Homo sapiens: one gene and its partners. The protein of the gene in region 1 interacts with the protein of each later gene in a pairwise test. Each region holds a gene or a part of one and is shown in the gene's direction. Other genes may lie near its edges.

Region 1 (3,356 bases):
GGGGTCGGACTGGGCCTGGACCTTCTATCCTGACCCTGTGGTGCTGGGCAGGTCACTTCCACTCCCTAGACCTCACATGGTGGATAATGAGAATGGTGACGTCCTCGTGGGGCTGCCATGAGGGTCACGGACCTTGTCCACCATCAGTGCAGTTTCGGCCCTAGTCAACGTCACAGAAAACAGCAAGCAGAGATCTTGGGCTGAGGCCCGTCAGGGCTAATGGCTGGCATTACTTAGACTGGGTTCCCTGGCAGCCAAGCCAAAAAGGGAAATCGGGCAGTAACTAACTGCTGTGTAAGGCCAGACTGGCAGACCTGCCTCTCCCCAGCGACCCGTCCTCCACACAGTGGTCCTGCTTGGGGTCAAGCCCAGACACTCTGGGCTGATCCCTCCCAAGCCCAAGCCCTTGTTCAGCATCTCCAGGACCCCTGAGCTGTGTAGCTGTCAGGATCTACCTTTATTCGCCCCATGTCCTGACGCCCAGCACATAGCAGATAACCGGCACATCCCCACAGGGCGGCAGGGTCAGGCCATCACGCTGGTGACACAGTACGACATCCACCTGGTGCACGCCATCGAGGAGCAGATCAGTGAGTGGGGTTGGGGTGGGTGGTAGAGAAGGAGGGGTGGGGTGGGCAGAGGTGGGCACCTCGGGGTGAGACCCATTTTCCCGTCAGACACCAGCCGGCCTGCTCCCGTGAGCAGATTTAGGCTGGGGCTTCCTTCCCTAGGCACCCCCAAAAGAAGTTCTTTTGCCCATTTATTGAAACAAACTCCCCATAGTTGTCGCCAGCAGCTGAAAGCCACATCAGTCAGGAGGGGACTTGGGTTTCTTAGACTGAGATGTATGGAAGGTCCCTGAGATGTCAGAGGCCCCATTGACAGGGCCTGGCCTGCTAAAAACCCCTGGGAATGGTTTCATATGCAGCCAAGACAGAGACACTTCCTAAGGTATCTCTGATCACTGCATAGACTGTCCTGAAATTTAGAAACATCTGGACTTGGCCAGGCACAGTGGCTCACACTTGTAATCCTAGCACTTTGAGAGGCCGAGGTGGGCGGATCACTTGAGCCCAGGAGTTCAAGACCAACCTGGGCAACATGGTGAAACCCCGTCTCTACTAAAAATACAAAAATTAGCCAGGTGTGGTGGCGCACGCCTGTAATTGCAGCTACTTGGGAGGGTGAGGCATGAGAATTACTTGAACCCGGGAGGCAAAGGTTGCAGTGAGCCAAGGTCGCGCCATTACGCTCCAGCCTGGGTGACAGTGAGACTCTGTCTCAAAAAAAAAAAAAAAAAAAAAAAGAGAAACATCTGGACTTTAAGGCCGGGCACGGTGGCTCACACCTGTAATCCCAGCACTTTGGGAGGCCAAGGTGGGTGGATCACTTGAGCCCAGGAGTTTGAGATCAGCCTGGGCAATGTGGAGAAACCCTGCCTCTCCAAAAAATATAGAAACTAGCAGCACACGCCCGTAGTTCCAACTACTCAAGAGGCTGAGGTTGGAAGATTGCTTGAGCGGAGGCTACAGTGACCTGATTGAGCCACCACGCTCCAGCATGGGCGACAGAGTAAGACCCTGTCTTCAAAAAAAAAGAAAGAAATATCTGGACTTTAAAGGACACTGTTTGCAAGAAATTAATATTCATGGTTAAACTCATAATGCTGCTAACACCGAAAAAAAATGGCGGGGGGAGGCTGAGGCATGAGAATTACTTGAACCCGGGAGGCGGATGTTGCAGTGAGCCGAGATAGTGCCACTGCACTCCAGCTTGGGTGACCGTGAGACTCTGAAAGACAGCGGTCCATACCTTCCTTACCTCAGAAATCCCTGATCTTGCTCAGCTGACCCTTACCTGATATGGCCCCAGATGGCCTTGCATACCCCACAGCATGGGGAACTCACTACTTGGCTGAACTCCCTCTCCATGTCACGTCTCCTCCCCACCCCCACCCCCGGCTTTGCTGTCCCCACAGAGAAGAAGCTGGAGGAGTTCTCCGTGGAAGAGGCCGAGGTGCTACAGATCCTCACACAGGTCAACGTGGTGCGAAGAGAGTGTGAGATCGTGAGTGTCAGAGGCGGGCAGGAACTAAAGTGCTCTCCAGGGCCGGGGGTGCTCCCTTCCAGGTGGGGCCCCCGTGACCAGCATCTCCTTACCCCACTTCCCTCCACCAGAAACTGGAGGCGGCCCACTTTGACGAAAAGAAGGAGATCAACAAACGGAAGCAGCTGATCCTGGAGGGGAAGGTGAGGGCCGAGCCCGCAGGTAGGGGGTGGGTGGCCAGGTTCCCTGGCGGGGGCCGCCAGCTCAGCCATCCCCTGGTCCTCCCTGTGCCAGGACCCTGACCTGGAGGCCAAGCGCAAGGCTGAGCTGGCCAAGATCAAGCAGAAGAACCGGCGCTTCAAGGAGAAGGTGGAGGAGACGCTGAAGCGACAGAAGGCTGGCAGGGCTGGCCACAAGGGGCGTCCACCCAGGACACCGTCTGGGTCCCACTCAGGCCCAGTCCCCTCCCAGGGCCTGGTCTGAGCCCCACACGGCCATCTGCCCAGTCCTTGACTCGTCCATGGAGCTGAGGGTCGGAGGAACCTTCCTTGGGGGCAGCAGCCCTTCCCGGGGGCCTACCCAGTGCCCCACAGCAGAACCCGTGGGCGCTCGTGTTGTGCGGGCCCTGCTCCTCTGCCCCGAAACCACTGGCTGGTCCCTTCCCTGAGCCCTGGCCAAGATTCAGGCTGCAGGGGAAGAAAGAACATGACCGGGAGGTTGTGACCCCAACCCAAGGTCACCCCCCAGGGGTGCCGCATACAGGAGGTGCTTAATAAACGGGTCTTTTGACTTCCTCAGTCTGACTTTCGAAGAGCAGGGGGACAGGAGAGGTGGGGTGCAGCCGCTGTTGTTTCTCAGGTGTCTGCCCAGAACACCATGTCCATTTCCACCAGGCAGGCCCAAAGTTTTGCAGACACCAGCTGCTCGAATGGCCATGGGATTTTGGGCCCTGAAGCCCCTTCTCTGGGCTTCCAGTTTCCTCATCTGGAGAATGGGCATAGCAACTGCCCTGCTCTCCAGAGGCAGCTGTGAGGCTTTGGTGAGGTCAGTCCTGTGCCGAATGGGTGCAGCTATAAGCTTCCCTGGCCACCCACCTGGCCACATCTGGGGTTTGTGGCCAGAGTGAAGGGGCCATGAAAGTCCAAATTTGGCCAGACAATGTGGGCTAAGCCCAAGGGGACAGGCAGAGAGACACCAGAGCCAGCTTCCTGGCTGTGTGGCCTGGACCCCCCTCGGACTCCAAGCCTCACCCCTCATCTGCAAGCGGCTTATAACTGCTACATGGATTCAGGGGCACCCAAAAAGACGCA
Region 2 (3,748 bases), on another chromosome or scaffold:
ACAGGTGCCCGCCACCATACCCAGCTAATTTTTGTATTTTTGGTAGACATGGGGTTTCACCATCTTGGCCAGGCTGGTCTTGAACTCCTGACCTCGTGATCTACCTGCCTCAGCCTCCCAAAATGCTGGGATTACAGGTATGAGCCACTGCACCTGGCCAAGATGCCTAACTTTCATGCTTCTTCGTATTCTGAGTAATTTTGAATTATATGCTGGACATTTTGAATATCAGGTTATGAGACACTTCAACAATTTCTTTTTGTTTTGTTTTAGACACAGGGTCTCACTCTGTTGCCCAGGCTGGACTGCAGTGTGTGATCATAGCTCACTGCAGCCTTGAACTCCTGGGCCCAAGGGATCCTCTTGCCTCAGCCTTCACAGTAGCTAGGACTACAGGCATGTGTCATCACACTCAGCTATTTTTAATTGTTTTTTTGTAGAGACAAGGTCTCACTATGTTGCCCAGGTTGGAAACTCCTAGCCTCAAGCCATCTATCTTCTTACTTCAGCACGCAAAAGTGCTAGGATTATTGGTGTAAGTCACTGCTCTTGGCCACACAGAACAATTTCTATTTCTCTATCTTTGAGTTCACAAACTCTTTTCTTGTCTCCATTCTGCTATTGAATCCATTTGGGGAGAATTATTTTCCTTCGTTATCATATTTTCCACTTCTAAAATTTCCATTTGCTTCTTCTTTAAATATTCTTTTTTTGTGTGTGTGCCAGGACTTTGTTTTTACTTGTTTCAACAGTGTTCATGATTGCTTGTTTAAGCATTTTTTTTTTAGACGGAGTCTCACTGTTGTCCAGGCCAGAGTGCAGTCGCGTGATCTCGGTTCACTGCAACCTCTGCCTCCTGGGTTCAAGCAATTCTCCTGTTTCAGACTCCCGAGTAGCTAAGACTACAGGTGCGCGCCACCATGCCCAGCTAATTTTTTGCATTTTTAGTAAAGACGAGGTTTCACCATGTTGGTCAGGCTGGTCTCGAACTCCTGACCTCAAGAGATCCACCCGCCTCGGCCTCCCAAAGTGCTGGGATTACAGGCATGAGCAACCGCGCCCAGCCTAAGCGTTTATAAAATAGCATCTTTAAAGGCTTTCCCACATAATCCCAACATCTCTATCTTAGCAGTGATGTCTGCTGATTGTCTTTCCCTATTTCAGTGGCCCTATGTTCCTGGTTCTTCATATTCTGAGTAATTTTGAATTATATGCTAGACATTTTTAATATTTAGTTATGAGACTCTTAGTCTTGTATAATGCTATGAGGTATGTTGCTATTTCTGTTTTAGCAGGTCGTCTACCTCACTTCACAGGCAGCCACCATGGTCCTTGTCCCTATGGCAGGGCCAGAGCAAGAGAGGGCCCTGGAGGGGAGGGGGGCTCAGTTGAAGATGGAATGAGTTTTGAGGGGAGCACTATTTGAGGTATTTGAGTACCCGAGGCATATGAAACAGCAGAGGGAGGTCGGATTCCATTATCTTCACGGGGATGAAAATCGGGAGTGTGGGGTGTGGGGCTGGGAACTGCAGCCCTCCCCACCTTTGGGTGCTAGCCTCAGTGCGCATGTTCACTGGGTGCCTTCCCGTCGGCCCCTTCGCCCACGTGGAGAACGCCAGGGAGCTGTGAGAGTGTGCAGTCGCGTTCCTGCTGTCCGGACACTTTTTTCCTCTACTGAGACTCATCTGGTAGATCCGCAGGCCAGTCCTCCCAGGGGCTGAAGTGTGAGTGAGGGTGAGGAGGAGCCAGTGGGCTTCAGGCGGAGCCAGTGGGCTTCGGGCAGGTTCGGTGGGCCCCTCGGTCTGGTGGTGTGTGGCTTTTGAGGGAGAAGGGCCTCAGTGGCCTCCAAAAGAGAAGGGCCTCGAGCTCGTCCTCCTTCTCCTCACAGGCTGCGACGCCGCCATCGGCTTTGTGGTCGTGAAGGGGCCAGGACAGGGAGGAAAGTGGGCCATGAAGGGGAAGCGGTCAGGGGCTCAGGTGAAAATGAGGCGAGTGCTGCGGGTGCTGTTGGAGGGGTCAAAGTCCCGAGGTGGTAGGAACCCATGACACAGGGCACATTCCTGAGTCCTGAATGGGGCCCCGAGGCGGGAGGTGGGTGGTGAAGATGGCGGTAAAGAAGGGGCCTGGAACCTGGGAAGGCTGTGGGCTGGTGAGCGCCCCCCAGCGGTGTGGAGTGGGGAGTGCCCGAGTGAGAAACACCCGAGTGAGAAGCGTGGCAAGGTCTCACCTCTGCCATAGAAGGTCCGGAAACAATGGGAAGGACTGGGAGAGGCTGTGTGGCCCAACCAAACTTGATTTGAGGGGGGTGAATGGCTCTAGTAAGTGGGAGTGTGCCAAAAGCAGCAGTCACGGGAATTGTGATTCACTAGTGTTTTCATGTGGAGTCCGCTTGTGAAACTAAACCTCATCAGAAACGTCCTCTGTCAGAGGGGCGCAGTGGTGCGCGCCTGTAGTCCCAGCTACTCCGGACGAGGCAGGAGGATCGCGTGAGCGGGAGGTCGAGGCTGCAGTGAAGTGTGATCACGCCACTGCATTCCAGCGTGAGCAACAGAGCGAGATTCTGTGTCTAAAAGAAATTTTAAAATAATGTCCTCTGCCTTTTGCCACATGCCTTAAGATGACTACTCTGCCAGCTTGGGGAGCATAAGTGGCTTTGCAAGCACTCAGAAAACGTACACACTTGCACTTAACTCTGGGACTTATTTTGAGAGTATTTTCAAAATTAAAATGACAAGTTAACATTTAGCCATGGAAGTGATCGAATATAGCTGTCCTCTCAAGTGCATGTTCCCAATCACAATTTTCTCTTTTCAGTGTGAAATATGGGTTTTCTAAGAAGATTAATCTATCGGCGTAGACCAATGATCTATGTAGAATCTTCTGAGGTAATTGGGCCTATGCTGTTGAGTGCTTTAACGTTAATTCGATGTTTTCTATTAGCAGAAATTAATTTTTGTGATAGTGTTGTTGCATTAGTATAGATACACTAATAAAGGTAGTTCATGCTGATTAAAAAAATAAGATTCTGGTATCTCATGAAGGAAATATTGATTCAGGAGGATTTTTTTTTTCTCTTGTGTTCTCCAACTTTTGGCCATGACTTCTTTCTCATGCTTTGCTTGTGAATGACACATAGATTATACACATCTATTCCAACATAGAGTGCAATAGCTTCCAAAGTCCTTGTGGGTAACTTTTCTCGCAGTAACCTTTCTGTGGGTAGAGTAGCCTTATTAACCATATAGAATAAAGTTGGAGAAATATTTTTAGGTTTAGTTATGATCAGAAACATCTATGCATTCTCTGTGTGTATACGTATATATTTTTTGACATGTATTAATAACAAAACTTTTTGTCTTTGCACACTCACACACATATTCCCTACCACAAGGAGTCCAGTGATGAGCAACCTGACGAAGTGGAATCACCAACTCAAAGTCAGGATTCTACACCTGCTGAAGAGAGAGAGGATGAGGGAGCATCTGCAGCTCAAGGTGAAGGGAAAGGGAAGAAGAATGCCTGTTGGGGTGTGTGTGTGTGTGTGTGTGTGTGTGTGTGTGTGTGTGTGTGTCTCATGCATTGTCACATACCAGGAACAGGAGGAATGAAAGCCATGCAAACGATGCCTAGAAATTGACTGGAAAAGTGAAGAGGGTATAGTTTGCAGCTTACCTTAGGGAAATAAATCCCTCACTATGATAAAATTTCTCCACTTTATGAATGAGAGAATGGAGGCCCGGGGATTGTG
Region 3 (3,648 bases), on another chromosome or scaffold:
GGAAGCCCCACTCCCTGCACCCTGACTCCCATTCCTCCCTCCCCTAGGATTTCGCAGGAGGCATTGCTGCACCAGCACCACTGCCCACAGCTGGAAGCCTTGCAGGAGAAGCTGAGGCTGCTGGAGGAGGAGAATCATCAGCTGAGAGAAGAGGTGAGAATGGGGGAGGAGGGCGTCCCTGCTAGCAGGGGGTGTTGACTTCCCTGTCCCTTCCTCTTTGTCTCCCTCCAGGCCTCTCAACTCGACACTCTTGAGGATGAGGAACAGATGCTCATTCTGGAGTGTGTGGAGCAGTTTTGTACGTAATGTTGTCACTCGGGGTGGGGGGTTGTCCCAAGGAGCAGAGAAAAGAACTCAAGATGTGGAGTATGGAGATCCAAGTTCAAGTCCCAGATCTGGCACTCCTAGCTGTGTGAACTTGGATACATTCCTTGACCTCTCTGAACCTTTGTCTTTAGAATGGGGATTAATTTTCTCAGCCCCACTGATCTCTCCAGGGTTTATGAAGATTAAGAGTGTCAACAGCTGAGGAAGTACTTTGTGCAAACTATAAAGAGCTATACAGAAATTGTGGGTCTCAGGCCAGGCACGGTGGCTCATGCCTGTAATCCCAACAGTTTGGGAGGCTGAGGCCGGCGGATCACCTGAGGTCAGGAGTTTGAGACCAGCCTAACCAACTTAGAGAAACCCTATCTCTACTAAAAATACAAAAATTAGCCAGATGCAGTGGCACAAGCCTGTAGTCCCAGCTCCTTGGGAGGCTGAGGTGGGAGAATTGCTTGAACCTGGGAGACAGAGTTTGCAGTGAGCCTAGATCACGCCACTGCACCCCAGCCTGGGCGACAGAGCAAGACTCCATCTCAAAAAAAAAAAAAGGTGGGTCTCCTCCAAGCCTGTCTTCTCTTATTTGGGGCAGGCAAGAGGGAGCCATGAGCTGCCAGAGACCAGGCACCCAGGGCTGGGACAGTTCAGAGTCATGCACGGGGCAGTGGCTGTGCCTGGCATCGTCCTAGGCACTGTGTGTTTATGAAGATGAGTGAGGAGCAGTGTTTGTGCCTGAGGAGTTCAAGTGTAGCTGGTGAGATGCAAACGCAAAGTGGCAACAGCTGAACTCCTGCTGTTCCCTTTACCCCAGAACTGACCTTCCTTCCTGCTGGGTTCTGCAACTCCCTGAATGGCCCCACTGGTCCCCAGGCTACTGGAGTAGGAACCAGTCCCCAAGCTCTGTTGCTTTTACCTCCTAGGAATGGCTTAAGTCTTTTTCCCCCTCCCCACTCGGGCTGCCTCTAGCCCAAGATACCTCTTAACTGGTCGCACTGCCTCTACTCGCGCCCTACCAGGAACTTCTGCACACAGCCTTAATGAGTTTTCTAAAACCAAACCTGGCCAGGTGCAGGGGCTCCCACCTGTGGTCCCAGCTACTCAGGAGGCTGAGGTGGGAGGATTGCTTGAGCCTGTGAATTCTGGGCTGTAGTACACTATGCCGACAGGGTCAGTATGGTCCAGGGAGTGGAGTACCACTGGGTTGCCTGAGGAGGGGTGAACTGGCTCAGGTCAGAAACAGAGCAGGTCAAAACTCCCATGCTGATCAGTAATAGGATCGCACCTATGAATAGCCACTGTACTCCAGCCCCAGCCTGGGAACCTGGCAAGACCTCATTTTTTCTTTCTTTCTTTCTTTTCTTTTCTTTTCTTTTCTTTTCTTTTCTTTTCTTTCTTTTCTTTCTTTTCTTCCTTCTCTCTCTCTCTCTCTCTCTCTTTCTTTCTTTTTTTTTTTGAGATGGAGTACAGTGTTGCAGTCTTGGCTCACTGCAACCCCTGCCTCCTGGGTTCAAGTGATTCTCCTGCCTCAGCTTCCTGAGTAGCTGGGACTACTGGTGTGTGCCATCACGCCTGGCAAATTTTTTTTTTTTTTTTTTTTTGACGGAGTCTCACTGTCGCCCAGCTAGAGCAATGTCATGATCTCAGCTCACTGCAACCTCCGCCTCCCAGGTTCAAGTGATTCTCCTGCCTCAGCCTCCTGAGTAGCTGGGATTACAGGCCTGTGCTACCGTGCCCAGCTAATTTTTGTATTTTTAGTAGAGATGGGGTTTCACCATGTTGGCCAGGTTGGTCTTGAATTCCTGACCTCAAGTGATCCTCCCGCCTTGGCCTCCCGCAGTGCTAGGATTACAGGTGTGAGCCACCACGCCCGGCCAAGACCGCATTTCCTTTTTTTTTTTTTTTTTTTTTTTTTTTTTTGAGAAGGAGGCTCCCTCTGTAACCCAGGCTGGAGTGCAGTGGTGTGGTCTTTGCTCACTGCAACCTCCACCTCCCGAGTTTAAGCGATTCTCCTGCCTCAGCCTCCCGAGTAGCTGGGATTACAGGCATGCGCCACCATGCACAGCTAATTTTGGTATTTTTAGTAGAGATGGGGTTTCACCATGTTGGGCAAGCTGGTGTTGAAATCCTGACCTCAAGCGATCCATCCCCCTCAGCCTCCCAAAGCGCTGAGATTACAGGCATGAGCCACTGTGCCTGTCCCAAGACCTCATTTCTTAAAAAACAAGTAGCCGGGTGCAGTGGCTCACCCCTGTAATCCCAGCACTTTGGGAGGCAGAGGCAGGTGGATCTCTTGAGGTCAGGAGTTTGAGACCAGCCTGGCCAACATGGTGAAACCCCGTCTCTACTAAAAATACAAAAATTAACTGGGCGTGGTGGCGCATGCCTGTAATCCCAAGTACTCGGGAGGCTGAGGCAGGAAAATCGCTTGGACTCGGGCGGCAGTTACAGTGAGCCAAGATTGCACTATTGCACTCCTGCCTGGACGACAGAGATTCGGTCTCAAATAAATAAATAAATAAACCAACAAACCCAAGTCTGACCACGTCATTACTGTGCCTAAAACTCCCAAATAGCTTTCCATTGGCCAAAGGATAAACCCCACCCCCTTGCCCACTACTGTGGTCTGGCCTGTGTGCACTGTTCTGGGCCCTCCCCGTCCCAGTGTCTTATGATGGCCTCTGGGCCTTTCCAGTCAGCTTGGACCCATGTTTTTCCTTCTTTGCCTGGGTGAGCTTCACTTGCCCTGTGGTCTTAGCTTAGTGGTTCCTTTTTCCAGGAATCCTTCCTTACCTTGCAGGTCGGGTTGGGTGCTGTAGCTGTGATGCCCCTGCCCTGTACACCCTTGACATTTGCCCATCATGGCCTGTATGATGTGTGACTGTGGTCTGTCTCCCCACCAACTTTACCTCAGTGTGGCGGCTGGGTCTTACTGACCACTCACCCTGGTGCCCTGCTCAGTATCAGTCAATGAACATTTCTTGAATGGAAGACCTGAGTGAGGAATGCAAAGCCCTGCAGGACCCACTGGCACAGCGCAGCAGCCGAGGGTGGGGGAGACAGAGGCATCTGGGAGGGCCAGAGCTGGTCCCTGAAGGCCAGGGGAGCCAGGGCTGACCTGTCCTCTGCCCTCCCCAGCGGAGGCCAGCCAACAGATGGCTGAGCTGTCGGAGGTGCTGGTGCTCAGGCTGGAAAACTATGAACGGCAGCAGCAGGAGGTCGCTCGGCTGCAGGCCCAGGTGCTGAAGCTGCAGCAGCGCTGCCGGATGGTGAGTCGGGTGTGTGTGGAACCCTCTTGTCGTGGCCCCATGGGACCCTAGCTTCCTT

What was found.
Region 2: the proteins of DDX49 (region 1) and PAGE1 interact in binary tests that used the Homo sapiens proteins (3 or more experiments, as listed by UniProt).
Region 3: the proteins of DDX49 (region 1) and HAP1 interact in a two-hybrid assay, tested with the Homo sapiens proteins (one large-scale study listed by BioGRID and IntAct).

The regions. Positions count from the first base shown.
Region 1 is NC_000019.10:18,925,788-18,929,143, forward strand, and holds the end of DDX49 (probable ATP-dependent RNA helicase DDX49), read left to right. Parts: intron 1-515; coding exon 516-590; intron 591-1,978; coding exon 1,979-2,067; intron 2,068-2,177; coding exon 2,178-2,249; intron 2,250-2,340; coding exon 2,341-2,529; 3' UTR 2,530-2,843; downstream 2,844-3,356. UniProt on the Homo sapiens protein: ATP-dependent RNA helicase that plays a role in various aspects of RNA metabolism including the regulation of mRNA export and the levels of pre-ribosomal RNA. Regulates the stability and synthesis of pre-ribosomal RNA and thereby regulates cell proliferation.
Region 2 is NC_000023.11:49,693,845-49,697,592, reverse strand, and holds the start of PAGE1 (P antigen family member 1), read left to right. Parts: upstream 1-1,608; 5' UTR 1,609-1,724; exon of another isoform or gene 1,725-1,734; intron 1,735-2,814; 5' UTR 2,815-2,822; coding exon 2,823-2,885; intron 2,886-3,391; coding exon 3,392-3,494; intron 3,495-3,748.
Region 3 is NC_000017.11:41,728,143-41,731,790, reverse strand, and holds part of HAP1 (huntingtin-associated protein 1), read left to right. Parts: intron 1-47; coding exon 48-153; intron 154-231; coding exon 232-298; intron 299-3,459; coding exon 3,460-3,590; intron 3,591-3,648. UniProt on the Homo sapiens protein: Originally identified as neuronal protein that specifically associates with HTT/huntingtin and the binding is enhanced by an expanded polyglutamine repeat within HTT possibly affecting HAP1 interaction properties.